Regions from separate parts of the Homo sapiens genome. Here all the other regions are reported to be linked to region 1. Evidence: microRNA targets listed by miRTarBase, many of them from high-throughput screens and not tested one by one. Region 1 holds a microRNA gene; each other region holds the end of a gene's coding sequence.

Evidence for each region. Region 1 holds the annotated microRNA hsa-miR-6787-3p (UCUCAGCUGCUGCCCUCUCCAG, at 2,591-2,612, opposite strand). A microRNA usually pairs through its seed, bases 2 to 8, with sites in the 3' UTR of a target mRNA and lowers its output. Matches are read on the target gene's strand: a 7mer-m8 pairs with bases 2 to 8, a 7mer-A1 pairs with bases 2 to 7 and ends in A, and an 8mer does both.
Region 2: miRTarBase lists RNF115 as a target of hsa-miR-6787-3p. The part of its 3' UTR that is shown has no 7-base or 8-base seed match.
Region 3: miRTarBase lists CMBL as a target of hsa-miR-6787-3p. The part of its 3' UTR that is shown has no 7-base or 8-base seed match.
Region 4: the mRNA of HIF1AN is a reported target of hsa-miR-6787-3p. The part of its 3' UTR that is shown has no 7-base or 8-base seed match.
Region 5: miRTarBase lists CPXM2 as a target of hsa-miR-6787-3p. Seed matches in the 3' UTR shown: 7mer-A1 at 2,832-2,838.
Region 6: the mRNA of SAMD5 is a reported target of hsa-miR-6787-3p. The part of its 3' UTR that is shown has no 7-base or 8-base seed match.
Region 7: miRTarBase lists TMEM151A as a target of hsa-miR-6787-3p. Seed matches in the 3' UTR shown: 7mer-A1 at 1,576-1,582.

The regions. Positions count from the first base shown.
Region 1 is chr17:82,235,243-82,239,318 of GRCh38, reverse strand. MIR6787 (microRNA 6787) reads right to left here and starts at 2,651; the gene lies at 2,591-2,651. SLC16A3 (solute carrier family 16 member 3) reads right to left here. Exons shown (of 5, transcript NM_004207.4): 2 at 3,088-3,336; 3 at 2,447-2,590; 4 at 1,426-2,181; 5 at 1-617. The coding sequence starts at 3,310. The coding sequence ends at 343. It also overlaps a transcript of CSNK1D not described here. RefSeq lists enhancers at 1-518, 1,289-2,060, 2,885-3,074.
Region 2 is chr1:145,743,570-145,747,645 of GRCh38, reverse strand. RNF115 (ring finger protein 115) reads left to right here. Exons shown (of 9, transcript NM_014455.4): 9 at 649-4,076. The coding sequence ends at 780. Among named protein-coding and RNA genes, the nearest start is that of CD160, 26 kb to the right of the region's middle.
Region 3 is chr5:10,277,122-10,281,197 of GRCh38, reverse strand. CMBL (carboxymethylenebutenolidase homolog) reads left to right here. Exons shown (of 6, transcript NM_138809.4): 6 at 566-3,603. The coding sequence ends at 745. Among named protein-coding and RNA genes, the nearest start is that of CMBL, 29 kb to the left of the region's middle.
Region 4 is chr10:100,547,448-100,551,447 of GRCh38, forward strand. It overlaps HIF1AN (hypoxia inducible factor 1 subunit alpha inhibitor), which reads left to right. Exons shown (of 8, transcript NM_017902.3): 8 at 646-4,000. The coding sequence ends at 690. Among named protein-coding and RNA genes, the nearest start is that of HIF1AN, 14 kb to the left of the region's middle.
Region 5 is chr10:123,743,302-123,747,377 of GRCh38, forward strand. It overlaps CPXM2 (carboxypeptidase X, M14 family member 2), which reads right to left. Exons shown (of 14, transcript NM_198148.3): 14 at 2,338-3,716. The coding sequence ends at 3,463. Among named protein-coding and RNA genes, the nearest start is that of CPXM2-AS1, 31 kb to the right of the region's middle. RefSeq lists an enhancer at 3,832-4,076.
Region 6 is chr6:147,564,176-147,568,251 of GRCh38, reverse strand. It overlaps SAMD5 (sterile alpha motif domain containing 5), which reads right to left. Exons shown (of 2, transcript NM_001030060.3): 2 at 1-3,858. The coding sequence ends at 3,796. Among named protein-coding and RNA genes, the nearest start is that of SAMD5, 58 kb to the right of the region's middle.
Region 7 is chr11:66,295,051-66,299,126 of GRCh38, forward strand. TMEM151A (transmembrane protein 151A) reads left to right here. Exons shown (of 2, transcript NM_153266.4): 2 at 1-1,614. The coding sequence ends at 603. Among named protein-coding and RNA genes, the nearest start is that of TMEM151A, 5.2 kb to the left of the region's middle.

The DNA.
Region 1 (4,076 bases):
GGCCCACCCACCCTCCCATTAAAGTCACGTTGTCTCGAAGCATGGGTTTCCAGGTCCTTGAGCATAGCAGTGGCCGCAGGCCACCTGGGAGCAGCAGGCGGGGCCCCTGGTGAGGATGCCTTGTAACCTTGCGGCTTGGCTTCACCGCAGATCCACTCTGGAATGACACGGTTCCCACCCCGCCACCTTCCCCCTCAAAACACTGATCGGGCGACGATCCGCTGGGCCGGCAGCTGGAGCCCAGCCGTGGCCCTGCCTGAGCCAGTCCAGTTTGTAAAATAAATAGCAAGCGTTGCCGGCTTCTGTACCTCCTCCCTGTGCCTGCCGGCCCCGCCCAGCCACTCAGACACTTGTTTCCGGGGTGTGAACCACCTCCCCGTTTTTCTCAGGCTCAGCCTTCAGGAAATGCTCCACCTCCCGCAAGTCCACCCCCGAGTCTGCAGGAGGCTTGTGGAGCTTCTCCTCCTCCGCGGCCGCCACCTCAGGCTGTGGCTCTTTGGGCTTCTTCCTAATGCAGAAGAAGTTGCCCAGCAGCAAAATCAGGGAGGAGGTGAGCACCTCGGCCCCCGCCAGGATGAACACGTACATGTAGACGTGGGTCGCATCCAGGAGTTTGCCTGCGGGAAGACCCCGTCAGTCCCAGCCGCTCATGCGGGCTGCCCCCAGGGCCCACGGCTCCACCCAAGCCTGTGTCTCGGTGTCTCAGCACGCAAGGGTCACCCTGTCTGCCTCTGAGCTTGTGGGGCTGGGAGGTGTTCTCTCCCCTCCATGTGTTTCAGCTGGGGGCATCCTCCCTCCTCCTCAGGGGAACCAAGACTTAAGAGGCTAAAAATAGCAATGGCTTTGTGGAGTTTGGGTTTCGGTTGGTGGCAGGAGTCACGCTGGTCCCCACGGAGTCCCCCTGAGGCTTCCAGTCGGCAGCCCCAGAAGCCCTACTGTGTTCAGTACCAGCCCTGTGCCCTGGCCACCGCGGACTCCAAGACATGAGCCCTCCCCAAGCCCAGGACCCCCTCGCCAGGCAGGCGGAGCCTGGGCAAGGCTGCTCCAGTCAGAACTTAATTTCCCTCACGTGTTAGCTCAGTCATCCTTCAAAAAGGAGAGGCCCCAAAATGCAAAAGCCGGCTGTTGGGTTGCCTGGAGCTGCCGCGTGGTGCCCAGGCAGAGCCTGGAGGAGCTGCCCCCCCCCGGGCCCAGCCCCTAGCCACCCTGCCTGTCTGGACACACTGTGCCGGACGGAGCACCCCACTCCTAATGGAGACCCGCTAGCCCCAGCAGAATCAGGGTTGGTCCAGCACAGTGCACCCCCTCCAGCTCTGAGTCCCACACTGCGGGTGGCTGCCGAGGGGTGCGCGTCCCCCCCCTCGCAAAGCGGGCGTCTGACGGGAAGGGCAGGTGTGGGGAACTGCCTGGGGGCGCAGCGCTCACCTCCCGAAGGGGGCCCGACGAGCACGGCCACCGCCTCCATCAGCAGCACCAGGCCAATGGCACTGGAGAACTTGTGGGTGCCCACGATGGCCATGAGCACCTCGAACTGCAGGGCCCCCACCATGCCGTAGGAGATGCCAAAGAAGATGCAGAAGACCACGAGGCCGCCGTAGTCGCCCGCCGTAGAACCCGCCAGGTCCGCGAGGCCGTTGAAGAACATGGAGAAGCTGAAGAGGTAGACGGAGTAGGGCCGCACCTTCCCAAGCCCCGCCACGAAGCCCGCGGCCGGCCGCGCGAAGATGTCAATGAAGCCCAGGATGGTGAGCAGGAAGGCGGCCTTGGTGTCGGGCACGCCCAGGTCCTTGGCGTAGCTCACCACGAACACGGGCGGGACGAAGAGCCCCAGCACCATGACCGAGGCGGCCACGGCGTAAAGCACAAAGCCGCGGTCCCGGAAGACGCTCAGGTCTAGCAGGCGCCGGGAGGGTCGCGGCGGCCCCGAGCCCGGCTGGGCCGTGACCACCAGGGGCCTCATGAGTGCGGCACACACGCAGCAGTTGAGCAGCAGGCCGCCCAGGATGAGGAAGCCGCCCCGCCAGCCGTAGCGGTCCTGCAGCAGCTGCCCCAGCGGGCTCAGGGCACACAGGAAGACAGGGCTACCTGCTGCCGCCAGCCCGTTGGCCATGGGGCGCCGCTTGCTGAAGTAGCGGTTCAGCATGATGAGCGAGGGCTGGAAGTTGAGTGCCAAACCCAACCCTGGAGGAAAGGGAATGTGGTGAGAGCCCCCCAAGGCTGCCCCAAAGCCCGAGACCCTCATCTCTGCCCCCAGGTTCCCACAGGCTCAGGCTCCCAGGGTGCAGAGCCCCTGCCACCCACCCACTCGAGAGGGGGACAACGAGGTGGGGCCGGGACACCCCGCAGCCACCCGCCCTGCTGTCCTCCAGAGGCCTGGACCCAGGAGCAGAAGTGCACGGCCCCTGCCCCTCCTGGCACGTGCGGCCCACCGGCCGGCCCCACTCACCCGTGATGACCCCAGTGGTGAGGTAGACCTGGATGATGCTCCGGCAAAAGGACGCAGCCACCATGCCCAGCGACGCAAAGAGACCCCCCACAAGCATGACGGGCCGGCAGCCAAAGCGGTTCACGCACACACTGCAGAGCGGACCTGGAGAGGGCAGCAGCTGAGAGGGGCCGGGCCTGCAGCCAGCTCTACCCCCGCCAGCCGACTGAGCTCACAGCCTGGAGCCGGCCTCCCCTTCCCACACCACCCCTCCCCCCGCGGGGCACCAGGGGCACCCCGTGGGCAGGCTCCCCGAGCGCAGGCCATGATGACACGTGAGCGCCGCCTGCTGGGCCCCTTGGGTCCCTGCAGCTCAGGAACAGCCACCTTTTCAGGAACGGCTCTCAGGAGCCTGTCCTCTGAGACGGTCTATAAATACAGCCGACCCGTTTGGACAGGGGCCAGGATGGACTTCGCGCCCTGCCTGGGTTGGCCCCGTGGAGAGCATGTTGCTGCCCAGCAGGATCCTGGCCCCAAGGGCTTCCCTCCAGGGTTCCCTGGGGAGCAGGCGGAAGGCCCTGTTGCTGAGCCCAGCTACACGCGCCCAGCAGGATCCGCCAGCAGAGCCCCGGACAGGGGGCCCGGTGTGAGGCCACCCTCACCTGTCCCGTAGAGCATGGCCAGCAGGATGGAGGAGATCCAGGCTGTGTCGCTGTAGCCGATCCCAAACTCCTGTATGAGCTCCTTGAAGAAGACACTGACGGCCTTGGGGAAGGCGTAGGAGAAGCCAGTGATGACGAAACAGCCGAAGAGCACGGCCCAGCCCCAGCCGCCGTCAGGGGCCTTGACGCCTGTGGGGCCCTCGTCCACCACGGCCCCTCCCATGGCCAGGAGGGTTGGTTCCGCCTCACCTGAGAGAGAAAGCAGGCTGACTCAGGCTGCCCGGGTGACCATCCCAGCTGCAGCCTGGCAGGGGAGGGACACGAGCTGGGTGGCCCGGCAGCTCAGCTGAGGGGCAGCTGCCCGGCACCCACACTTGTGGCCCCCTGACCTGGTGTCTGGTGGAGGCAGGAGGGTTTGGAGGGAGGCTAGCAGCTGTGGGTCCCACTCCCTCTGCACTGCCTCCTGCACCCTCACAGCTGGCTCTAAAGGGCAGTGGCTTTTTTGGGCTCGGCCAGGACTCAGATTACCTCCTGGGACAAGCAGCCCCCGACAGGAACATCGACCTGGCCGTCATTTCTGCCCTGGCTCGCTCTGGCTGACCCGTGCTGGGCAGGGACCACGCACACCATGATTCTGGCAGCAGACGGCACCTCCGGTCCCCAGCACTGAGCTCGCCCCAGGACCTCTGGGGTTGGCATCCTCCAGGTCTCTCCCGGTCTAAATCTAGGTGGAGCGTGCCTTGCTCTGGCTCTCCTGCCCCCAAGGGCCCACTTTGGCTTCAGTGGAGCCCACCAGGAGCTTGCCCAAGAGGAGGCGGGCAGTCTCTGGCGGTGAGGGGCTGGGCCCCAGGCTGGAGGGGGCAGTTGGAAGCACAGGGGCTGCAGTATTAGAGTGGGTGGGGTGGGGAAGTGGGGGCAGAGCTGGCCCCTTGTCCCTGGATGCCCCCTTGCCTCCCACCGGCCCTCTTGCTCAGTGACTCCTCCAGTGA
Region 2 (4,076 bases), not on the chromosome of region 1:
TTTGAGACAGAGTCTCACTCTGTCACCCAGACTGGAGTGCAGTGGCGTGATCTCAGCTCACTGAAACCTCTACCTCCTGGTTTCAAGTGATTCTTGTGTCTCAGTCTCCAGAGTAGCTAGGATTACAGGCGTGCACCACCATGCCCAGCCAATTTTTGTGTTTTTAGTAGAGACAGGGTTTCGCCATGCTGATCTCAAACTCCTGACCTCAGGTGATCCACCTGCCTCGGCCTCCCAAAGTATTGGGATCACAGGTGTGAGCCACTGCACTCGGCCAATTTTCCTGTCCCTTTAAACAAAAAGTTTGCTGACCTCTGCTCTAGACCATATTGGGAAGTAATGGGCAGTTACCCTCCTGTCATAGATCACTCACTGTTTCTGGTTCGTTCTGTTTGGTGGTATGTATTAGCTGTTATTAACTTGCTGGCCTAGAATTATTCCTGTCAGTTCTGCTTAAAGTTCTGTTTGGGAGATATCCTGGTATCACACCTTAGAGCCAGTGCATGCTCTATGAGGATGCATTCTCTATTGTTTTTCTGTTCCATGTCATAATTTTTGATGTGACAATTCTCAGGGTTATTTAAGTGTACAATACTCCCAGCTTCTCAGGCCAGGATCTTCACATAGACTAATATTTTTCTGTTTCAGCATGACACATGTCCTGTATGTAGGAAGAGCTTAAATGGTGAGGACTCTACTCGGCAAAGCCAGAGCACTGAGGCCTCTGCAAGCAACAGATTTAGCAATGACAGTCAGCTACATGACCGATGGACTTTCTGAAGCTAAAGACCACACCTGAATCAGGGCTGTGGTAATCATCTTACCATAGCTGTAAATTGTATCAAAACAAAAAATTAGTAGATGGATTTAGGAATATGTAAGAAACTCAACACATAATATAAATGCAATGAATGTTTTTCTTCTTTAAATTTAAAGTTAGTATCTACAGATGGAATTGTATCTACAACCAAATGCCTCTTATCCCTGAATTCAGAGTGATAATTTTATAAGTGTGAAACTTAATTATGTAGGGCTCCCCCCGTCTGAATAGAATTAATTCCTTAAAGTCTAGTTAGGGTCCTGCTGTCTGTCATGTTGCCTTGTAACGGATGTTTCCACCTCCTTCTCCAACCTCTACCCCACCATTAGTGTATTTTACTATAAAAACAGTGGAACCACAGCCCTAAAGTCCTGCTGATATAAAGTCCTTTTGTCTTAATTGTATTTAAAAAAAAAAAAAACTACTCTTGATCACATTAGCTATGAGGCGAGGTCAAATTCAGGTATCTAAGACTAATGATTTTGTTTTGTCTTGATCCCCAGAGAGCAAATCAAAGAAAAATTACAGCAAGAAGAGAAAAGTGGTTTATCATTGTGTGCTTTGGTTTTCTTATTTTAATTTTTTTTGTTTTTTTTTTTTGAGATGGAGTCTCGCTCTGTCGCCTAGGCTGAAGTGCAGTGGCACGATCTTGGCTCATTGCAAACTCTGCCTCCTGAGTTCAAGCGATTCTCCTACCTCAGCCTCCGGAGTAGCTGGGACCACAGGCATTTGTTACCATGCCCAGCTAATTTTTTGTATATTTAGTAGAGATGGGGTTTCACCGTGTTAGCCAGGATGGTCTCAATCTCCTGACCTTGTGCTCCGCCTGCCTCAGCCTCCCAAAGTGCTGGGATTACAGGCGTGAGCCACTGCGCCTGGCCTCTTATTTTAATTTTTAAAGACTACTTCAGTTGATGCAGTTTCCCAAGAAACCTACATAACATATATTGGGAGCCTTATGTTGATAGGAATCTGATTCCCATTCCTTTTTGGGAATGAGTTGGGCAGCATACAGGCACAGAAAGACAGATGTTTGAGACCTTTGCTTCTGAGATTTTAAAAAATGATTACCGCTGGGCGCGGTGGCTCACGCCTGTAATCCCAGCACTTTGGGAGGCCGAGGCAGGCGGATCACAAGGTCAAGAGATCAAGACCAGCCTGGCCAACAAGGTAAAACCTTGTCTCTACTAAAAATATAAAATTAGCTGGGCGTGGTGGTGCATGCCTGTAATCCCAGCTACTCATGAGGCTGAGGTGGGAGAATCGCTTGAACCCAGGAGGTGGAGGTTGCGGTGAGCCGGATCATACCAATGCACTCCAGTCTGGGCAACAAGAGCGAAACTCCATCTCAAAAAAAAAAAAAAAATCCCCAACTCACTGCTTTTTTTGTTTGTTTCTGTCGCCTAGGCTGGAGTGCAGTGGCACGATCTCAGCTCACCACAGCCTCGACCTCCCAGGCTCAAGTGATCCTCCCACCTCAGCCTACCAAGTGGCTGGGACTACAGGCGTGTGCCACCATGCCTGGGTAATTTTTGTATTTTTGTAGAGATAGGGTTTTGCCGTGTTGCCCAGGCTGGTCTCAAACTCCTGGGCTCAAGTGATCTGCCTGCCTCAACCTCTCAAAGTGCTCAACTCATTGTTTACTGTCTTTTTTCCTAGTAATCTTAAAATAATTTGCCTCACAGAAATAGAGACAGTAAGTGTCTGCAGCCAGTTCACTGTTTTTGGTAATTCATTGGTCTTCAGGAGTTAAGATTTTACATTGTCACATTTTAATTTTTAAGCCTATTTTTCATCTCTGAAACTTTCCTTTTCTCCTTGGTTCTGGCTATACTTGGACTCAAACTGATCAGTGTGATCATGTCCAAAACAGCTTGGCCTGGAAGAGGTAGGCCTTATTTTTTCAGCCTAGTAGTGTCCCATGCACATGCTCTTTGTAGCATTCAAGTGTTTAACATTGGATAAATTAAGAAGGTCAAGAATGTTGTTGAAACTTCAAGGTCTCAAAAGGAAATGATGGGGACATAGAACAACTGTTGGTGTACCAAAAAAAGGTACAGAGGGGCACCATTTGTATTGTCACACAACAATGATCAGAATGATCAGTTTAGAATGATCAGAACAAAAACACCACTCTTTAATGGGTCTTTTTCTTGGCTAGAAGTCTTTCCTCAGTTTTTGTTGACTATCATACGCTGATTTGTGGGTGACGGAAGGGGGCTAGAGATAACGTTTCTCTGTACTTTGGTAAAGGATGAAGGAGTCAGAGAGGGAACAGAAAAAGTGAGAGAGTGGCCTGCTGAAATAATAGCCTGCCTCTAAAAGTTGTGACCAGAAAGTATGATTCATTTGGGCCCAGAGGGAATAAAATATGTTTTTTCATATACCTCCCATATTACACCTCTGTAGTGATTGTTTATTTGGGGAATGAGATCTACTTACTGTGCGTTGCCCCTGAAATGTAGCTTGAGAATACACACTGGTTTTGAATTGGGGAGGAGGATGGAAGGAAATTAGAGGTGTATTATGAATATTTGGCCACTACTTAGATGGAGGAAGGCTATGTTGAACTTGGGACACATTGCAGTTTTCAAGTACACAATATCAGTTGTCTCAGAAAAATCATGACAGCCTGGACATATTTGCTTGTCAGTGTCTGGAGATGCCAGGACAGGCAGTTGTAGTTTTACGTACAGATAGAGAACCAATGCCTAGAGAACTAGAAAGGATCTGAGTACCTTTAAAAAGGGTGGAAACAAAGTACTGGATAGGGGTCTGCCTTTTTATACACAGTATAGCAAACAGCATCAGACAAAGTTACATGAAGTTTTCTTCACTTTTTTTGCTCTGGTGGATAGAGGATGTGAGACTCATTTTACTGTTTCCCAGACCTGTCCCACTTAATGGATCTGTTGTGTTTCTTCTTATAATGGCAGGCACCTCAGATGTCCAGGTTAATTTATGTTGAGGAGTTAGGATTCTTCAGGGATTTATTATTATTATTATTATTATTTATTTATTTATTTATTTATTTATTTATTTTTTGAGATGGAGGCTTGCTCTGTCGCCTAGGCTGGAGTGCAGTGGTGCAATCTCAGCTCACTGCAACCTCCACCTCCTGGGTTCCAGCGATTCTTCTGCCTTAGCCTCCCAAGCAGCTGGGATTACAGGCACCTGCCACCATGCCCAGCTAATTTTTTATATGTTTAGTAGAGACAAGGTTTTACCTTGTTGGCCAGGCTGGTCTTGAACTCTA
Region 3 (4,076 bases), not on the chromosome of region 1:
AATATTAGTAACTAATATATTAATGCAAGTGATTTCAAATAATAGATGTATCATTTTTCCATTTCCCTGAAATCTCTCCTTTGCCAGACATAAGGACTGTGTTAGTTATAAAATTAGCAGTAGAGGCCGGGCGCCGTGGCTCACGCCTGTAATCCCAACACATTGGGAGGCAGAGGCAGGCAGATCACTTGAGGTCAGGAGTTTGAGACTAGCCTGGTCAACATGGTGAAACCCTGTCTCTACTAAAAATACAAAAATTAGCTGGGCATGGTGGCGGGTGCCTGTCATCCCGGCTTCTCCGGAGGCTGAGGCAGGAGAATCACTTGAATGTGGGAGGCAGAGGTTGCAGTGAGCTGAGATGGCGCCACTGAACTCCAACCTGGGCAACAGAGTGAGACCCTGTCTAAAAAGAAAAAAATTAGTGGGAAAGAATTCAGTGTAACTGTGGAACTTGTTTCTGATTTAAAGCATTGATGTTAAATTTCTGTTATGAACGCTCACTAAAGATTTGGAGAATGGAAAGTATCACTAAAGGGTTAAAATCATGAAATCTTTTGCACACCAGGTATCTTTGCTGACTCAGAAGTTGAAAGAACACTGCAAAGTTGAATATCAAATTAAAACATTTTCTGGGCAGACTCATGGGTTCGTGCATCGGAAGAGAGAAGATTGCTCACCTGCAGACAAGCCCTACATTGACGAGGCCAGAAGGAATTTAATTGAGTGGCTGAACAAGTACATGTAGCAAGAATCAAGGGCAAGCCTTCCTAGAATAGCTTTCATCCCAAAATTTGCTTGGAAATAGTTAGATCATTTGATTTAATTTTCACTTTTATAAAATAAGTGTAGGAATCCTAAAATTGATTATTTCATTTGAAACACAAATTCAGTAGGACGTAATGCATGAAATAATTTAATTTTTGACATGTACATCGAATCATAATTTAAAAACAAGGTCTGACCAGGTGTAGTGCCTCATGCCTGTAATTCCAGCACTTTGGGAGGCCAAAGTGGGTGGATCACCTGAGGTCAGGAGTTTGAGACCAGCCTGGCCAACATGGTGAGACCCCATCTCTACAAAAAATACAAAAATTAGCCTGGTGTGGTGGTGCACGCCTGTAGTCCCAGCTACTTGGGAGGCTGAGGCACAAGAATCAATAGAACCCAGGAGGTGGAGACTGCAGTGAGCCAAGATTGTGCCACTACTGTACTCTAGCCTGGGCAGCAGAGTGAGACCCTGTCTCAAAAATAAATAAGTAAATAAATAAATAAATAAAATAAAAACCAGGTCAGTACCTGGAGAATTTGAATGATAGAGAATGATAGAGTAATACCCTAATTATTAGTTAAAACCTACAGGCCGGGTGCGGTGGCTCACGCCTGTAATCCCAGCACTTTGGGAGGCCGAGGTGGGTGGATCACTTGAGGTCAGGAGTTCAAGACCAGCCTGGCCAACATGGTGAAACCCCATCTCTACTAAAAATATAAAAATCAGCCGGGCATGGTGGCATGTGCCTGTAATCCCAGCTACTCAGGAGTCTGAGGAGGAGAATCACTTGAACCTGGAGGCAGAGGTTGCAGTGAGTCGAGGTTGCGCTACTGCACTCCAGCCTGGACAACAGAGGGAGACTCTGTCTCAAAAAAAAAAAAAAACCTACAGCTGTTCAAGGACCAGCTGACAGGTCAAGTGTGGCCTTTTCTGGTCTTTGAACACATCATAGAAAGTGACAAATGCTGCAAAGCCATGAAGAACATGAACTATAAACGGGTAGACTAACTGCCCAGCTTAGACACTTATCTATGCCACAAAACAGCTGAATTTGTCACATTTATATATTGCAATATGGGAAGTATTGAGATCAAAACAGGATTCCATTGACCTAATTATATTAAGCTAATAAACTAATTTTTTGAATTTTTGAATTTGCAGCTTTTTTAAAAAGATAGCAGAGAACGGTGGGCTAGAGTTGTCACCCAGCTGTTGTCTCCTAAGCAGTGGATTTCCAAGCACTGGCATTTTTGGGTCCCAGGGCCTGAGGCTACCTCAGAAATATCTCCTGTGTTTCTGGTGGTGGCGTAAAGGGGAGAGCCGGTGAGAAACTCTGCACCTGCACCTACGGGGTGCGTACATGTGACTTTGGGCAAGTGACTTGATGTTGTAGTTTTTTTCCTAATTTTGTCTTGACGTCCTTCTCAGGAGAGAGTGGCTGTAAACTCTAGCCCTGCCCTGACGGGGATCCTGGGGATGTGGTCGTGGGTGTTTCCCATGTGCCTTTCATGGGATCCTTCTTTGACCTCACAGACGGCCTGATTCCTGAGTGTCCAACCTGTGGCCAGGTGTCCCTCTCGCAGGAAGCTTGTTTATCCTGGCACATGACCTTGTGGCTCTCATCTGACCTGTGTCCAGTTTATTCCTACTGAGACAGCCACTCTCCCGGAGAGCCCTGACCGGGAAAGAAGTTAGGATGGGGTAGAGGAGGCAACTCATCAGAACCCAAGAAATGACAGAAGCAGTTTATTGCTTACAGATCCAGAGAACAGAGGGCAGCACGCTTCACAGGGCCAGCAAAAAGGGGGAGCCATTCAGGACACATGGGCTCAACCAGAAGGTGGAGAACGAGAGAGAGAGGGAGCTATGAGCCAAAGCCTTCACTGGGGCCCAGGGTGTCATCTATGCAGGTTTCCCCTGGAGGTTCTAACTGGGGGGTTTAGAGCAAGCAGGCATGAGCCCCGGGGACTCACGCTGTGACTGAGAGGGGTCGGTGTGGGTAGGATATCGGCATGGTCCATGTGGGTGTGGGGGTCAGTGGGACAAGTCAAGCAGGTGGTATCCAGCTGTCCATGGGAAGGTGGTCCCAGGAGGCGGTTTTGTAAGGCAGATGTCTGGATCGACCACCTTGGGGAACAGTGAGAAGTTGTATAACTGGAAACTGTGTTACTAATCCCTGCTTCTAGTATGAGAAAGTCCAACTTACATTCAAATAGATGCTCAGGAAACATAAAATTCAAAGAATTCCCAAACTTGAGCTTCCTGAGCCTCAGTTTTTGCATCTGTCAAATGGGTATGGGGAGACCCTTTGCCTAATGTTGAGAGAATCCAAGCCTGAGCAGGGCTGGTCTACTGTGGACACTTAGTTGTGGACCCCAACAGGCCAAAGCCCTTGCCTGCTGAGGGCTGCTCCCAGGAGGCCTCACACATTCATCCGGCCTCCCAGGAAACCCCTGAGATGTGCTGGGCTTTTGCCGTGGAACGGTGTCGGTGAGCATGTGGCCAGTAGCCAGAGTCTTCAACATAGGTGGGAGGTCTGAAATTCGTGCGAGAATGAACCAAGGGTGTGGCTGTATCCTTCATGGTGAGCTTGGGGCCTGGGCAGCCTTCCCTCTGCTGAGTCCTTTGGTCAAATGTCATGGTGTTCTGAACCAGCACTGCAGATAGAAGTATAATGTAAGTCACACACGTACTTCTTTAAAAAGATATGTTCTTCAGTGACTATTAGACAAACAGATAAATGAAGGTAAAGGGAAAAAATGGCAACTTTAGCTTTTTTCCCCATGTATGTAATTTTAAATTTTCTTATAGCCCCATTAAAAAAAGGAAAGAGACACAAGTGAAATTAATTTTAATAATGCATTTTAGCCCAATTTATCACAAATGTTCCATCAGTGTGTAATCAATGTAACGAATCATGAGTGAGATATTTTGTATTTTTTTTTTTTTGTTCCTCTATCTTTGACATCTGGTGTGTATTTTCTGCTTACACATATCTCCATTTGGATGCTAACTTTTCATCAGAAGTACTTGATTTGGCCAGGCACAGTGGCTCATGCCTGTAATCCCAGCACTTTGGGAGTCTGAGGTGGACTGATCATTTGAGGTCAGAAGTTCAAGATCAGCCTGGCCAACATGGTGAAACCCCATCTCCACTAAAAATTCAAAAATTAGCTAGGCATGGTGGTGGGCACCTGTAATCCCAGCTACTTGGGAAGCTGAGGCAGGAGAATCACTTAAACCCGGAGGTGGAGGTTGCAGTGAGCTGAGATGGTGCCATTTTACTCCAGCCTGGGCCACAGAGCAA
Region 4 (4,000 bases), not on the chromosome of region 1:
GCTAGTAGTAATGTTCCCCATGGGTATTATGTACCATCTGGGGACCCCCTGAGGGGATTCTTCTGGAACAGGAAGCGAGCACTAACACATCTCCTTGCACTTTCCCAGCTGTGCCAGGGCTGCTGTAGGTAATGTTGAGAGACCTGCTTCCCATGCAGGTGTGCCAGTGGCCCATTGGGTAAATGGGGGAGGTTTGTATTTGTAGGGTTCTTGCTTGCCTCTTGGAGGTAACCTCAGCATCCACAGACACCTGTGGTGTTGGGAGATAGCATCAGCCCCAGTTGCAGATGATCATTTTTTGAGGATATGGAGGCAGTTAACATTCTGGAGAAACATATAGACACTCTTGGGTGTTCGGGGATTATTAGCTTCTCTGACCATGTCTGTCCGTTTGGGGCAGATTACGGTAAGAGACGGTGTTGTGCGAGAGAAGAATAATAGTACAAGATGGACCCCTGAGGGAAAGACTATGTCCCAGAATACTGGGTTGACCTTCAGGAAGATAGGTGATTAGAGGATTCACAAGATTGTATGAAAACATTGTCTCTGTCCTTGGCTGGACATCTGATGTCTCCAGACACACCCTGTCCAATTCCAGGGCCAGGGAACAGCCAGTTCTGATTGGCTCCTCATGTTTCTTTACAGGTGGGGCCCTTGTTGAACACAATGATCAAGGGCCGATACAACTAGCCTGCCAGGGGTCAAGGCCTCCTGCCAGGTGACTGCTATCCCGTCCACACCGCTTCATTGATGAGGACAGGAGACTCCAAGCGCTAGTATTGCACGCTGCACTTAATGGACTGGACTCTTGCCATGGCCCAGGAGTCAGGTGTTTGGAGCGAGGCAGGGCAGTTGGCACTCCACTCCTATTTGGAGGGACTTCATACCCTTGCCTCTTGTGCCCCAGCACCTTCTCTCTCTGCCCCCCGCCTAAAGTCCTGCATTCAGTGTGTGGAGTCCCAGCTTTTGGTTGTCATCATGTCTGTGTGTATGTTAGTCTGTCAACTTCGGAATGTGTGCGTGTGTGTGCATGCACACGCATGTATGTATCTGTTCCCTGTTCCTTCTGGGTCAGGCTGTCACTTCCGGCTCTCAGCCCTATCTCCTGCAACCTCAGTGCCTCAGCCTGAGAGAGAGATGAGATGCTCTTGGACTCCCCACTGCATCTGGGCTGCAGGGCCAGAGCTAGTCTGACCATTAGGTCAGTCTGCCTCCTGACAGTTTTTGCGTAGTCAAGCTCTAGGCGGTATGGGAATGGCTACCGGGACTCTAATGGGGTGAAAGAGAGGGGAGGCTTGCCTTTGAGAGCCTATATAGCCTTCCTGTGAGAGAGGATTAGATAGGGTTCCAACTGGGCCTACAAGCTCAAGCCATACATAAAAGGACCTTGGGACATAAGAACCAATGATTGTGCATAAGTTCTAAATTAGAGACACATATAGTTTCTCTCTTTCAGCACCAGCTCTTGCCCCTATGCTGGGTACCAAGGGAGTTCTCCTAGCTGTGGCTTCTCTAGGTTCTAGGGGTGCAAGCCTCTGTGTGTTTGTTTGTGTGTGTCTGTGTGTGCGTATCCACACTAGGGGTGCAAGCCTCTGGGTGTGTGTGTGTGTGTGCGTGCGTGTGTGTGTGTGTGTCCGTGTGTGTGTGTGTGTGTGTCCACACTGGCCAGCCTCCCTACTTACCAAGGTTCTCCACTGCTTACCTTTTCCAGTGGGACAGTACAGTGTGAGCCCCCGGGAAGTACTGCCTGACCTATCCTAAGCTTTTACACTTGGATTTTAGCCATCATATGTTGGCCAGGTCTCACTGCAGCCTGCCCGAGGCTAACTGGCTAGAGCCTCCAGGCCCTATGATGCTCCCTGCCCAGGCCATATCCTTTATTCCTGCTGAGCTTCCTGGCTGAATAGATGAAATGGGGTCAAGCCCAGGCAGCTCATTCACTACCTGTGATCCACCTCAGGGCACGGGCAAACACATAGGCTTGCGTCTTAAAGCCAGCTCCTCTGCCAGACCCCGTTGTAATGTGCCACAACACCCTCAATAGTCAGGGCAACTGGTGGAGCATGGAAGTCGAATTTCCTTTTCTGTTAGGAGCTACTCCTGGGAACCCCTCTCAGGGCTGCAGCTTACAGGTGGGCAGCTGTGATTGCACAACTTGAAGGGCCATCATTCACATCTATTCAGTGGGAGTGGGGTCCCTGGGATTGGGCAGTGTGGTGGCCCTGTGTCTCCTCACCTCTGCTCCTGTCTTCATCACCTTCTCTCTGGAAGGGAAGAGGAGTTGGAAGGTCTCTGGTTTTCTTTTCTTTTTTTTTTTTTTTGCCAAAGGTTTACTTCCAGCATCTGAGCTCTGGCTCTCACCCCTGAAGCTCAGTTATAGTGCACTGATGAACTGAGAGGATGCGTGTGGATGTGTGTGCATGCCTGAGTGCGTTTTTTGGGGAGGGGTGTTTATTTTTAGTACCCCATTCTGGGGTTCTCTGATGCAGTGTGGATGTGAAGATATGGTACCTTCTCAAGTGTAGCTCTTTCAAATATAGTCAATGCTGGGAAATGTGATTGCAGTGATCTCTATCTCTCCACTTCTTTTGGGAAAGAGGAGCACAGGAGCGGAGGAAAAACTTGGCCACAGTCACACTTGGAAAGATAGTAGATTATTTTCGTTCTCCTCAGCAGGTCTGCTGTATTCCTCGCTCAGCGCTCAAAGATGTGGGTGATGTGTCAAGGAGGCATGCACTCAGCTGGTCCTTGCTGAGTTATTTGCTGACACAGGTCTCACTAAGGTGGCTGAGGGGTGGGAGGGAGAAGGCTAATCTTGGAACCTTCACAGGATTGGCCTTGATCCTTGGGTAACACAAGAGTGATTCCTGATTTTTAGACACCTAATATGTGCCTAGTGCTTTTCTCTTTGTTCCTCACTATCCTGCAAGGTAGGTATTCTCACTTACAGATGAATAAATGGGCTCAGAGAGATTAGGTGATTAGTGACAATCAGTTGTAACTTAGCACTGTTAGGCTGCAAACCCCTTGCTCCTTCCTTTCCACCAAACTATGTTGATTTTCCTTCCTTACCTCCCTCCTTGTACCACAGGTTCTGTCCTCAAGATATCACCCCACTGGGCAGTATCTGAAGGCAGACCCAGCCCAAGATGGTGCAGAATATACAGCTCAGGGTGAAAGTTCTTCTGGGCTCCTGCTAACAAAGTCTTGGAAAAACTGCCTGGGAAGCCATATTATGAATTAGTGCTAGAAGAAGCTGTGGGGGGAACTGAGTTCTGTGTCTAATTGCATTACTTATGTGTCCTTGAATAGGACCCATAACTCCTCCCGGCATGCTTTTGCATCTATAGAACTGAAGCTGTAGTTCTAGATGGCACTAAGGGTCTTGGTTCATATTCAGCTGCTGCTTCCCCCCAAGGAAAAGATGAGGTTTTTCCCCTTCGATTACCTTTTGAGGGATGTTTAGGCTCAAATTCTGCTTGCCACAGAGGAAACATTTCTGCTGTAGTTGTTTACCTCCATCCTAGCTGGCAGTGTGGGACACACACATACAGCAAGTGAAGGTGGGGGTTTGGGCCTGTATAGAGGTCAGCTACGCTGCAGGCTCATCTATTCACACCAGCAGGTACAGAGAAAACTAGTGTTTTGTAAAGTCAAATATTTGTTGGGGGTTGGAGTTCTGGGGTTGGAGGAGGGGCTGTTCTGGGCATCAGTTGAGCAGATGCCCAGGATGCCTGGGGGAGACCAGCTTCCCCTACAAATCAGAGCTCTAAATTACAAGGTTTTTACCAACGTGAACAGTTGGGGGAAGTCGTCTGCTCTCATTTGCGTAATGGTTTCTGTCACTGGTGATTAGACACAGGATGAAGGAAAAGAAATTTGACAATTAGGAATGAGCGATCATTAATCTGAATCTGTTAGGAGACAGAGAGGGGAAGGATCCTTATCAGTGGGCCAGCCCAGTATGGGGAGACACTCCCTCCCTCTGCCCCCAGAGACT
Region 5 (4,076 bases), not on the chromosome of region 1:
AGGCACTAGACTCCGCCAGAAGCAGACGCACCACGTTGGTTGATTTTATCCTGCAGAAAAACATCTCAAACAGCCTGTCAATCTCTGGACATGTTTCTAACTCAGTCAAGTACCAGGTTTCACTTATAAAAATGAAGACTCTTCAAGAGGTAAAAAGACACCAAATACATTCAAAGTATAGATTTTCAATTTCTCAAGTCACATTTTCTGAACGTGTTAAGGGAATCCTACAAACAGGGCAGCACATGGCAGAGGCTGGCTCGGCTTCACACGTGTTCATGGTGCAACTGCTGCAGTGGGGAGCAGCCCCGCAGGAGGAGTGGGAACCGAGGAGGATGCAGGTCCTGCCCTTGGGAGCTTCCAGACCAACAGCAGAGAGAACCTGAAGTAACACAACTCCTCTGAGAGGCCCTGAGGGCTCTGCAGATTTGTTCAAAGGAGTGAGAAATCACCATGGTCCTGAGAGGGGGAAGGCTTCCTGGAGGAGGTGGCATTTGAGACAGGACTGGAGAGAAGCAGGAGGGTTTTCAGCTGTGAGGAGAGATAATATATGCAGAGGCCCAAGCTGAACCTAGGGAAAGATCTAGGAGGGTAATTCCGGCTGAAAAGCAGGAGAGAAGGCAAGTAGGAGGGAGGTTCCGGGCTCCGGGTTAAGGAAGGTTATGTGGGCTTGAAGGTCCAGTGAGGAGTCGCTGTGTCACGGAAGGGCTGAGGAGAGAAGTGACTCCAACAGAACAGAGCTTTAGGAATCCAGGATGTCGGCTCTCTGCCAGAAATCTTCGGACGCCACAGCCAGCCTGACCTTTACAGTCTATGAAGCCTGAGGGCTTTACTTTGCAGGAGTAGATGAGAGATTAGAGAGGATGCCTGACCTGAGATCACACACCAAACAGCCCTGGCCAGTCCTGAATGCAGAGCCCCTGCCTGCGAGCCCAAGGTGCCTGCAAACGGGCTCAGTTTGGTGACAAGGCTGCAGGGAGGGTTGAGAATGGCATGGATGCAGTAGGCTGTGTGCAGTAGCCCTGCAAGTTCCAGAGCTGACTACTGGAAATAAGACCGGGCCATCTCGGCACCAAGGGCCAGGACCTGGCTTCTGGGTCAGCATGGCAGGGACTGGACAAATCCACAATCTTCCAAGCAAATGTGGGATTGCTCGGGTTTAAATTGTGGGTCCAGGACATGTCTCAAGGGCCCAGAAGGGTCACTTGCACCATCGTCTCTTTCACCCCTGCAACTCCCCCTTCTGAACTGCAAAGGTGGTTTATAGTTTTAAATGCTTTATAGCACTGCCTCCATATCTACTGCTGTGAGGCTCAGATTTTCCTACCATGGGCTTAGTTGAGAGCTGTGTGGTCCAATATGTAGCCTTTAGCCACAAGTGTCTATTAAAAGTTTAATTAAAATGAACATTCTATAATAGAAGAAACCCAGTTTTTAAGTTTCACTGACCACCTTTAAAGTACTCAATAGCCACACGTGGCCAGCACTGTGGCATTCGATAGCACACAATAGGACATTTCCATCATCACGGAAAGTTCTATTGGCCAACACTGGCTTATAGCAGGAGCTGACTATGTCTTAGCTTGCAGGCCAAATCCAGCTGCCACCTGTTTTTGTAAATAAAGATGTACTGGAATGCAGCCATGGCCATTCATTTCTTTTCTTTTCTTTTTTTTTTTTTTTTTTTTTTTTGACAGAGTCTTGCTCTGTCATCCAGGCTGGGGTGCAATGGTGCAATCTTGGCTCACTGCAACCTATGCCTCCCGGGTTGAAACGATTCTCCTGCCTCAGCCACCTGAGTAGCTGGGACTACAGGCATGTACCACCATGCCCAACTAATTTTTGTATATTTAGTAGAGACAGGGTTTCATCATGTTATCCAGGCTGGTCTCAAACTCCTGACCTCAGGCAATCTGCCTACCTCGGCCTCCCAAAGTGCTGGCCCATTCATTTCTGTACTGTGTATGTCTGCTTTTGTGCTACAATAGCAGAGCTGAGTGGTTATGACAGAGACTGTATGGCTTGCAAAGCCTAAGCTATTTACTGACCCTTTTAAAGAAAAGTTAGCTGACCCTGAGTATAGATTGTGCAAAAGCTGTATGAGAATCTTTTCTCTAAAGATGCTTACTGGCATCTCCAAGAGCCAATAGTGGGTCCCAAACAAGTGTCTCTCCTGGGAAAGAGGCAGAGAACATAGTGCTGTCAGCATCAGTGCTGAGCTTAGTGGGGGTGCAGGATGGCCACCCCTAAGCAGGCACCTTGTCTAGGCTGACCAACCTCAGAAAGAGGTAGTGGGGTGGCTGCAAGCCTACCCAGAAAAGTCACACACACCAGAAGGGTCTTACCATTTGCTTTATTTTTTTTTTTCATTTTTCCCAGGTCAATGAGGCAGCAACATTAACAAAAAGTGAGACATACTTTTTTCTTGCAAGATAATTCAATAATTCTTCCCAAACTGATGCTCCACAGATAATCCTAAGAGGTTTTCATTACATTTAGCCTAATCTGGAAGATCTGGCATTCTACATATCAAAAATAACTCCCAGGCTGATATGAGGCCAACCCATGAGCACTCAATTCCACACAGGGGCAATACCTCAAGCAGAGAGAGGGCTTCAGGCCACCCCACTTCTGGCTCTTTCCAGTCCTAGCAGGTAAAAGAGGAGATCCAGGCTAAATTTTCTGGCCCTTCAGGAAGGCTGGCACCTCTGGCTCTCCCTACCTGGGGAACCTCCAGGGCTACTGGATCAGCAGGGACTTTGGGGGTTGTTTATGGACCCAGAATTTGTGCAAGAAGCTCCATGCTTGCTGCCCAACAAACTCCTGAATGATCTCAGCCTCTCTCTCCTTTTCTGAACACACTCCTTTGTTGAAAAAGGAGACTAAACAGATTCAAGAGGCTCACTGATGTGCACTTGGCAATGACGCTATTGTCAAAAGAACACAGAATTTATTTGTAGCAGCTTGCAATGTCCCAGGGCCAGAGAGGGTGGATTCTCTTAGGACGCCTGGGAGCATCTCAAATGGTAACATTTGGGACAGCCCAGCTGGGGAAATGCTGCAATTTTAGCTGTGCAAATTGCAAATGCACGTGGAACCCTTGCTGCCACGCAAACAGGGGAAGCACCAGAATCCTTTTCTATGCAGCCAGAGGCTCTGAACGGACAGGCTCCCCTCCTTCTCCTTCTCTCTCTGATTCCCAGGTTGGCTTGCTGAGTTCTCTCACTCCCATCAGCTTTTCTCTGCTGCTCTGTCCAAGTTATTTGGATAAATGGGAACAAAGAAAAGAAAACAGCCTCAGCCTCCAGCCTTCCCTTTTGGGACCTGCCTCACAATGCACCCTCTCTTCCAGGCACTTCTTGAATTACAGAGGAAACAACAGTGAGTGAGTCCACTATGGAGCTACTACCAGGTTGGTTTAATTTGCATGGGTCCCAGACGAGTCTCAAGGGCCCAGGAGGGTCACCCACGCTGTCGTCTCTTCTGCCCCCGCAGCTTCAGCCGCCTGGCTGGCAGGCTGACGGGCTGCTTCCCAAACTTCTCCATGATCTCTCGGATCCTGGCCATGTTGGTTTTGCTAAGTGTGAAGTCACACCTTGTGGCCCCCATGTCATAGCCAACCATACAGTTCTTGGTGGATGCAGTGAAACCTTCGGCCTTTGCTGTGACCACATACTCTCCAGGGTTCAGGAGGCGCCAGTAATCCCCATCGTTGGCTGTGAAAAAGAAAACCAGGGGAGACTCAGAGCAGCTCTTGCTAATGCAGATCCCGCCAGCCCTCCTCCAAGACCAGCTCCCTGGGCCAGAGAGAGACTCTCAGGCTGGCAACGTGGAATCCGAGCTCCTGCAGATGCAAATTCTTAATGCATTTTGGAAGCCCAGATGTTTTCCTCTCTGAAAGCTGCCTTAATGGTTTTAACAGGGAGGGGAGGTATAGGCTCCCCGCAGTGTCAATACACAGGAGCAAAGCTGGAGAGCCGATCACTAATGCTCTGTGACAATATGAGCCATTCATGATGAACTTGAACTTCCAAACAGTATGCCCTCGCCACAAAATGCCATCTTGAAAAGCCATC
Region 6 (4,076 bases), not on the chromosome of region 1:
AGTCCCTGGTATATCTGGTTTTTCTTTTCATAGAAAAGAGTTTGCCGATCCACCATCATCTGCTTTGTATCTTGGTTGGATTCTTCCCAGAAGATGCTATCGGGGAACAGCCCATTTGCACTCCTAATTTGTAAATCAGTCATAAAATCAGAGGAAAATATACATATGTCACTCACTCATTTGTACCTCAAATTCATCAATCTGAAGCTGCCATAAAGAGAAGAAAGCTAATGAAATACCTTCATATAATCTGTCCATGTGCCTATTTCCCCAGACTTGAAAACTGCTGGCCTTTATGAATTTGCTGTTTTGTTTTGTTTTGTTTTGTTTTGAGACGGGATCTTGCTCTGTTGCCCAGGATGGAGTGTTATTGTTTCCTTAAATCAAATTCTTTTCATTCAATCAATAAACATTTACTGAACTCCTATGAGCAGGTACTGTAGCCTTTTTTATCCTTCCTGAGAGAAATCAAAGGGGACTTATTCAGTGGGTTTCAGGCAATGATAAGGAAATGTCAATTTATGTCTGAGTTTTCTAGTCAGCTTTAAGGTAATCTCTTCTGCATAAGAAGAAATAAGACAACTGAGAGTAAAGAAGGGAAGGGAGAGAGGCAGTCAGCACCTGCTACATGCCTAGCACTGAGCCAAGGACTGTATGTGGGTGTAAGCCATAGAACTCTTAAGCCTCTTAAGAGCTATAGAGGTATTTATTTTTCCCATTTTACAGACAAGGGAAAAGAAGCTTTAATGAGTTTCATAACTGTTCAAGATGATTCCCCAAGCTACACTATAGCTTACATCCTTAACAGATTCACCGCAGGAAAATACTACTAGAATAATTTTAGAATTTAAACTCAGATCTGAGTAACTCCAAAGTGAAAGCTCAATGCTTGTTGTTGTCATTGTTTATTGCATAACACCAAGATGCTATAAATATCTCTGAACTGAGAAATTGCTCGTATGCTCCCAGTTGAGAAACTACTATCCTTTGTTGCTATAAATTCAGTTTTCCCCACAATTACTGGTTCAGCTCCCACTTGGGTAAGGAAGAAGCCCTTAACATTACGCCTTCCCTATGCCAAGAAATCTTTTATGTGAATAAAATCTTTTTTTACCTCCCTAAATTTTAAGATGAACTAAAGAAAATTTTGCTATGACCCTCCAGACTCCTCAATATTATCAAGTGAAAGTCTGTAATTAATCTCTTTTAATACTCTAGGAAATGTAAATCAAGATAATCCCCTAGTTTTTATAACATATTTATTCTTAGTCAATTGCTACTTCTTTTATATTCAAAAATTAAGTATATTATTGGTGTTTAGATACAGAGGAAAAACGCTGAAAAAATTACTCCTTCTAAGACTAACTGTCCCCAGATACAATTCATGGTAAAAATAATCCCTTTCTCTTATATTCTACCTCTTACCTCATCTTGATTTTAATGCAAAGGAATTCGTGGGCATCCTTCAATACTTCTTTGCTTATTTGAAGTTTTCTTCCTCTAGCTTTAACTAAGATGTCTTTTTAAAATCCATTGGCTTTTTTTGCTGACTGTGACTCTTACTTTAAGCAGAGCATTGTTATTTTCAAATTCTAACCACAGACACAGAGAGAAGGTTTAAACCTGGCAAAATAATTGAAGTTAGATATTACTCTAATAGAAAATAAAACTTGAAATGACCAAGGAACCCTTTTTCCATTGCAGTAGATTGCCTCATAAGGCCCACAGTGAAAATAACAGATTTTTCAAAAATTGAGTCCTTCCTAGCAAAGTTCAACAAGTACATGCAAATGTACATCTGTGAAATAAATCAGCCACGGATGCGACACCTGGAAATGAGGTCAAACAGGAAGCCATTTGTTATCACAATAAATTATATCTGTAATCTATACAGACTCCCCTACCACTCAAAAGAATCTACTTAGGAATTTTAAAGACCCTAGTTCATTTGGAAAAAAAAAAAAGATGAAAGGTTAACTGGAATATAATCCTGATGAAACTAAAAGCTTTTGTATAATTTAAGGACAACCTATACATGCTTTTAAAATTTAACTTCCTTACATTTGTATATGATAATGAGACTGATTTTAGTCAGTGCCTGAATTAACCTACAGAAATAGCTAAACTATTTAAACTTCAGATTTTTAAAGCAGTATTGTGTTAAAATTGTCCTTAGAAACCTAATATCCTTCTTAATGGCCTATCTATTCTTAGGAACCAAAATGGACCAGGAAAAAGTGAATGTAAGTTTCTTTTCCTTTGAGAGTTTCTTATTCTTCTTACCATGACGGTGCCGATGGGAACTTACATCTTGTACATTCTTCTAAGTAGTAGATTCCGTAATGCAGTACTACTTGGGAGCTCTAAACAATTGACAGCCTCAGGAGCCAGTTGTACGTCAACATCTTTTGCCATGGCTTCTTTCAACTAAGTTTTTGGTCCCATCAACATGGTTGCGTTTTCTAAGCAGAAAATAAAACTACCAGCATCCAGGCCGGGTGTGATGGCTCACGCCTGTAATCCCAGCGCTACTGGAGGCCACGGCGAGTGGATCATTTGAGGCCAGGAGTTCAAGAACAGCCTGGCCAACATGGTAAAACCCCATCTCTACTAAAAATACAAAAAAATTAGCTGGGTGTGGTGATGCGTGCCTGTAATCCCAGCTACCAAGAGGCCGAGGCAGGAGAATTCCTTGAACCTGGGAGGCGAAAGTCACTGTGAGCCAAGATTGTGCCACTACACTCCAGCCTGGGTGACAGAGCGAGACTCTGTCTAAAAAAAAAAAAACTACCAGCATCCAAACACAAGAACGATAAGACGATAAGAATTAGAAAAACTCTAGATTCCTGTTAATTTCCTCCCCCCACCTCAATCTACTTTCTTTTTCAGCCGTAGTTCTACAGGGCTCCTCAGGCCACTGCCGCTGCCCACCTCCCGGCCCCCACAGGCCTGAAGTCAGAAGCCTGGAGAGCAAGGTGGGATAAAGCACTGCAGCTCAGAACAGGCTGTGAGCTGCGGCCCTGGCAGTCTCCACAGAGTGCAAGAAACTAGCTATGAAGTAAAATAGCTAGCTCTTGCTTGATGCATGTCAGAGCAAGACACTTGTATTAGTCCTAATACTAAACCTCAGCCAGATTAAATTTAAAAAGAGAAGTTAGAAGAAATTGTCCTCTCTTGGTGATGTTCCTTAATTCATCACCTTTAACATTGTACCAATATACAAAATAACTATATAAAAGCACCTTAAAATAAGAATTCCTTCACCAAACTATTCTACATAGAATTATGTATCTTATCTTATAAAAACATGGTCCTATATGAAATGAAGTAGAATGTATGCTTGAATATAAAAATTAAAGCTACTGTTCTCAAGTTAAAAGCAAATTTGGAAATAATATAATTACTACTTACTGTCAGAAATCTACCTTTTTGTTATATTGTACTTAAACTAAGTTATGACTCAAATGCCTTAGCCAACCTCATCTGTTTTCATTAAGAATGGAAGGGAGAATGCCAAGAAATGCATAAGACTGTATCTCATCATGATATCTTCTTAAAAAAATGAACTCAATACTTCTTTATGCGTGATAGTTCACTGCCTTATTTCTAGCTGTTATAAGCCAGTTACCCAGTTTACTAAGTTGATTATTCCAGAATTTGTCCAAGCAAAAAGTTAAGCTGATGAGTATTTCCAGGGTCATCATCCATTTCCCTTTTTGAAAGAAGGTTCTAAATATGCCCTTTTCCAGTCTTCAGGCACCTCATCAGTCCTCCACGAGGTCTCAAAAATGATATCTAGCGGCTCTGTGATGACTTCGGCCAATTCATTAAGTACTCTAGGATGCCAGCCATTGGGACCTGTGGATTTGAACATATCTGGGTTATTGAAGTTCTCCTTTACCCATTCTTCCCCTAGTCCATCATGGATTTCTGCTCCTATTTTTAAGTCATTCTTGTCCCTTTCTGCTTACCACATGGACTTTTGAAGAACAGCCCTAAGAGTTTTTGCTTGTTATCTATCAATTTTCTCTTTCAAGCTAATTAAAAAAGAATGCATTTTATCCTTGTCAAGCCTA
Region 7 (4,076 bases), not on the chromosome of region 1:
TCGCTCATGGTCTTCGCCGACCCCCGCAGCCCGCCCTGGTACGCGCGCGCCTGGGTCTTCTGGCTCGTGTCGGCGGCCACGCTGTCGTGGCCCCTGCGCGTCGTGGCCGCCTATGGCACGGCTCACGTGCACTACCAGGTGGAGAAGCTCTTTGGCGCCAGCTCGCCCCCGCCGGGGGCCGTGCCCAGCGGGCCCCCGCTGTCCCGCGTGGCCACAGTGGACTTCACTGAGCTCGAGTGGCACATCTGCTCCAACCGGCAGCTGGTGCCCAGCTACTCGGAGGCCGTGGTCATGGGCGCGGGCTCGGGCGCCTACCTCAGAGGCTGCCAGCGCTGCCGCCGCTCTGTCAGCAGCAACTCGCTGCCCCCCGCCCGGCCCAGCGGGCCCCGCCTGCCCTTCAGCCGCAGCCGCCTCTCGCTGGGCGCTGGCGGCCGGGCCACGCCAGGGGTCTTCCGCAGCCTGAGCGGGGGGCCGCTGGGGCGCCGTGGAGAGGACACGGAACCCCTGGAGAGCCCGCCCTGCTATGAGGACGCCCTCTACTTCCCGGTGCTCATTGTCCACGGAGACAGCGGCTGCCAGGGGGATGGGCAGGGTGCTCTCTGAGACCCCCCACGGCCCCCAGAGTGGCCCCCTCCCCACCATTCCACCATGGGCTTAGATGCCCGAGTGATTGTTGTCCAAAACAGGCGGGAAAACAGACCAGCCACACACAAGGGGCAGGGGTGAGGGTGGGGGTGGGGGTCCTTAAACAGACTAAAATGCAGTTACCTGTGGTCATTTTGGAGGAAGTGGAAGCCTAAGAATCGCCCCCAGCATGGCTTCATCCCCCAAGATGGCCGATGATCTGGCCTGAAGGCCTCTCACAAAGGGCAGGAGAAGAAGCTTCCAGAAAGGCTGGGATGGAGGAGGAGTCCTGCGGCCAGCTGTTGCCTGCAGCAGAGGCTGCCTGTGGACACTTCCCTACCGGGGCTGAGGCCATGCTGGGAGCCCCCCCAGTGACGCAGAAGCACAAATTGGAGGCTTGGGGCCATGCCCAGCCAGGTTGGCTTCCCTGGGGCTGAAGAGCTGGCTGTGGTGGCACCATGGCCTTGGCCCTGCTACTCACCCAACATTCCCATCCTCCCCTGATAGGCCCCTCCTCCTTGCCTGCCCTCTCTCCCGCTGCTCAGGGCCAGTCACTCCCCCCACATGCAGCTACCCCTACAACCTGGGGTTCCTTCTCAGGGCCTCACCTGGTCCCCACATCCCCTGGCCTCTGCTCCTGCCTCCCAAAGTCCATGTCTGCCTCCATCAGCCACACACACGCAGGGACGCCCGTTCCTTGCCCTCCCGGACTTATCTACTCTTCACTTTCCTGATGATCCATGGGGCCCAGGCCTAGAGGGCATCCGAGGGGCTGGGCCTTGGCCACAGCCTCTTGGATGATGTCCTTGCTCCACCACGCAGGCCCTTGCTTCTCCCATCAACGAGTCTTGGCCCAGGGGACACTGACCCTCCCCCAGGGAGGAGAGAGGAGTTCCTTCCCTTTCAACGAGGGCTTCCACGCCCTCTAAGGGGTGGCGGGGAAGGGAGGAGGCTGAGAAGATGCAGATTAAATAAAGGTATGGAATGGAAGGCCTGTGCATTCCTGGGTCATGGGTCTAAGGCCTCCACTGCAAGCATTATGGGCCCCCATGGTTCAGGGCACGATGAGGGGTTCTGGGAAGGGACTCAGAATTGGGCTCCAGTGTTCCCAGGAACCAAGTAAGCAGAGGAGAGGAAACCTCCCCTGCCTAGCCTGGGGCCTCTGAGACTCAAGTGTGAGGCGCTCTGAGCACCTGGCTCCCCTGACTCCGGTATCTGGGCCTGGGTCACTGCTAAGGCATTGTCAAGGTGGCCCTTGTTCCAGCTCAGTGGGACATTCCACTCTGCTGCTGGGCATGCCGAGGGCTAAGGGAGTGGTGGCCGGTCCCCAAAGTGGGGAGAAAGAGCTATGGTCTGTGACTCGAATTCGGTGCCCCCCCAGCGGCTACTGACATTATCAATCTGAGGGAAAGGGCATGAAGCAGGTCAGAAGACACAAAGCTGGAAAGGGCAGCCCCAAACCAGGGCAGGCTGGCATGGAATCCAAAGGCAGAGAAAACATCAGGGAAAAGGAAGGTCCTGACTCCCTGATGGAGCTCTGAAAGATTCCTGGACGTGGCATTGTCACATGTGCAGCAGTAAAGGGTGTTCACTGTGCAAGGGCAGTGGGCTAAGGGGCAAGCGTGCATGGAATCCAGCCTACAGGCCACTCCCCAAACTCTGGCATGGAGCTACATCCACTTGGAGAAAGGGGACCGTTTTCCTTTTCACGCAAAGGTGGCTTAAGGGCTAGTGGTGGCCCGGGAAGTGTGCTGAGAATGGGTGGATTTCACTAAGCAAAGACATGGCAAGCAATGTCTTGGACAGCCGATGCTGCCCAGACAAAGGCCTGGTTGTCGGGCATGAGCTGAGGTGTGACAAGGAGATAGAAGCAAGAAGCCATGGAAGGCTTTGCTGCAGCTTCCATGCCAAACCCTAGAATTTGTCCTTAAACTGGAGCAAACTGGGCAATCTGGAACCATGGAAGGGGGTTGGGCAGGGACGTGATACAGTCAAGGCTGCATTTTAGGATATTTAGCAAAAGTCCAGCGACCTGCTGGCTCTGTCGGGAGGGTGGAGTGAAAGACCAGAGTTCTCCCTGTGCGTTAACCCACAGCCTCTCTTCTTTGGGTGTGAAATCAGTTCCTCGTTCAGAAGCAAATTAGGTGGAAAACCCTGTGGTGCCCAAACATTCAACAAGGCTGCAGGGGGTGGCCAGGCACAGTGGCTCATGCCTGTAATTCCAGCACTTTCGGAGGCCGGGGCAGACAGATCATTTGAGGTCAGGAGTTTGAGATCAGCCTGGCCAACATGGTGAGACACCCCCCACCCCCGTCTTTACAAAAAATACAAAAATTAGCTGGGTGTGGTGGCGGGCACCTGTGACAGCTACTCAGGAGGCTGAGGCAGGAGAATCGCTTGAACCCGAGAGGCAGAGGATGCAGTGAGCTGAAATTGCGCCACTGCACTCCACCTGAGACTGTCAAAAAAAAAAAAAAAAAAAAAGGCTCCAGCAGGTAGGGAGGCCAGCATGCTGGTTTCAGCTCCTTGCCATGGGAAAGACCCTTTTTCCACCATTCTGCTCTAACACCATAGCCAACAACTGCCCACTGGCCACTCACTGTCCATTCTCCTCCCTTCCCCAATAACAGAACCCCAGTTTTGCTGCAGAAGGCAATGTGCCCAGCTAAAGGGCAACATTTCCAGCCTCCCTGGCATATATGGTATGACTGTGTGGCTGAATTCTAGGATATTAGATATAAACAGAAGGTGCTGGAAGGGATCTCCAAGAATGCCCCTTGAATAGAAGCAGTATTGATGAAGGCCATTTTTGTCCTCTCTGCTTCAGCCTGCATTCAGCCTTGGATGCATATGTGATAGCTGGAACGCCAGCAGCCATCTTGGAGCAGGAAATGACCTTGAAAATTGTAGCCACAGGCTGGGCGCGGTGGCTCATGTCTGTAATCCCAGCACTTTGGGAGGCCAAGGCGGGCGGATCTCGAGGTCAGGAGATCGAGACCATCCTGGCTAACACGGTGAAACCCTGTCTCTACTAAAAATACAAAAAATTAGCCAGGCGAGGTGGCAGGCGCCTGTAGTCCCAGCTACTTGGGAGGCTGAGGCAGGAGAATGGCATGAACCCGGGAGGCGGAGCTTGCAGTGAGCCGAGACTGCGCCACTGCACTCCAGCCTGGGCGACAGAGCAAGACTCCGTCTCAAAAAAAGAAAAGAAAAAGAAAATTGTAGCCACATGCTGAAGACAGCAGAGCAACAAGGGAAAAGATCCTGGGCTTCTGATGACACCATGCAAGTTTCCATGTCATCCCTTGGGTCGCCTACCTCCAGACTTCAATGAGAAAGAGAAATAAACTGTAAGTCTGCTTAAGCCCATTGCTTTTTTTTTTTGTCTCTGTTACCAGCAGCTTTTACCAATTATCTACTGCCACATAACAAATTATCCTAACCCTAGTGGC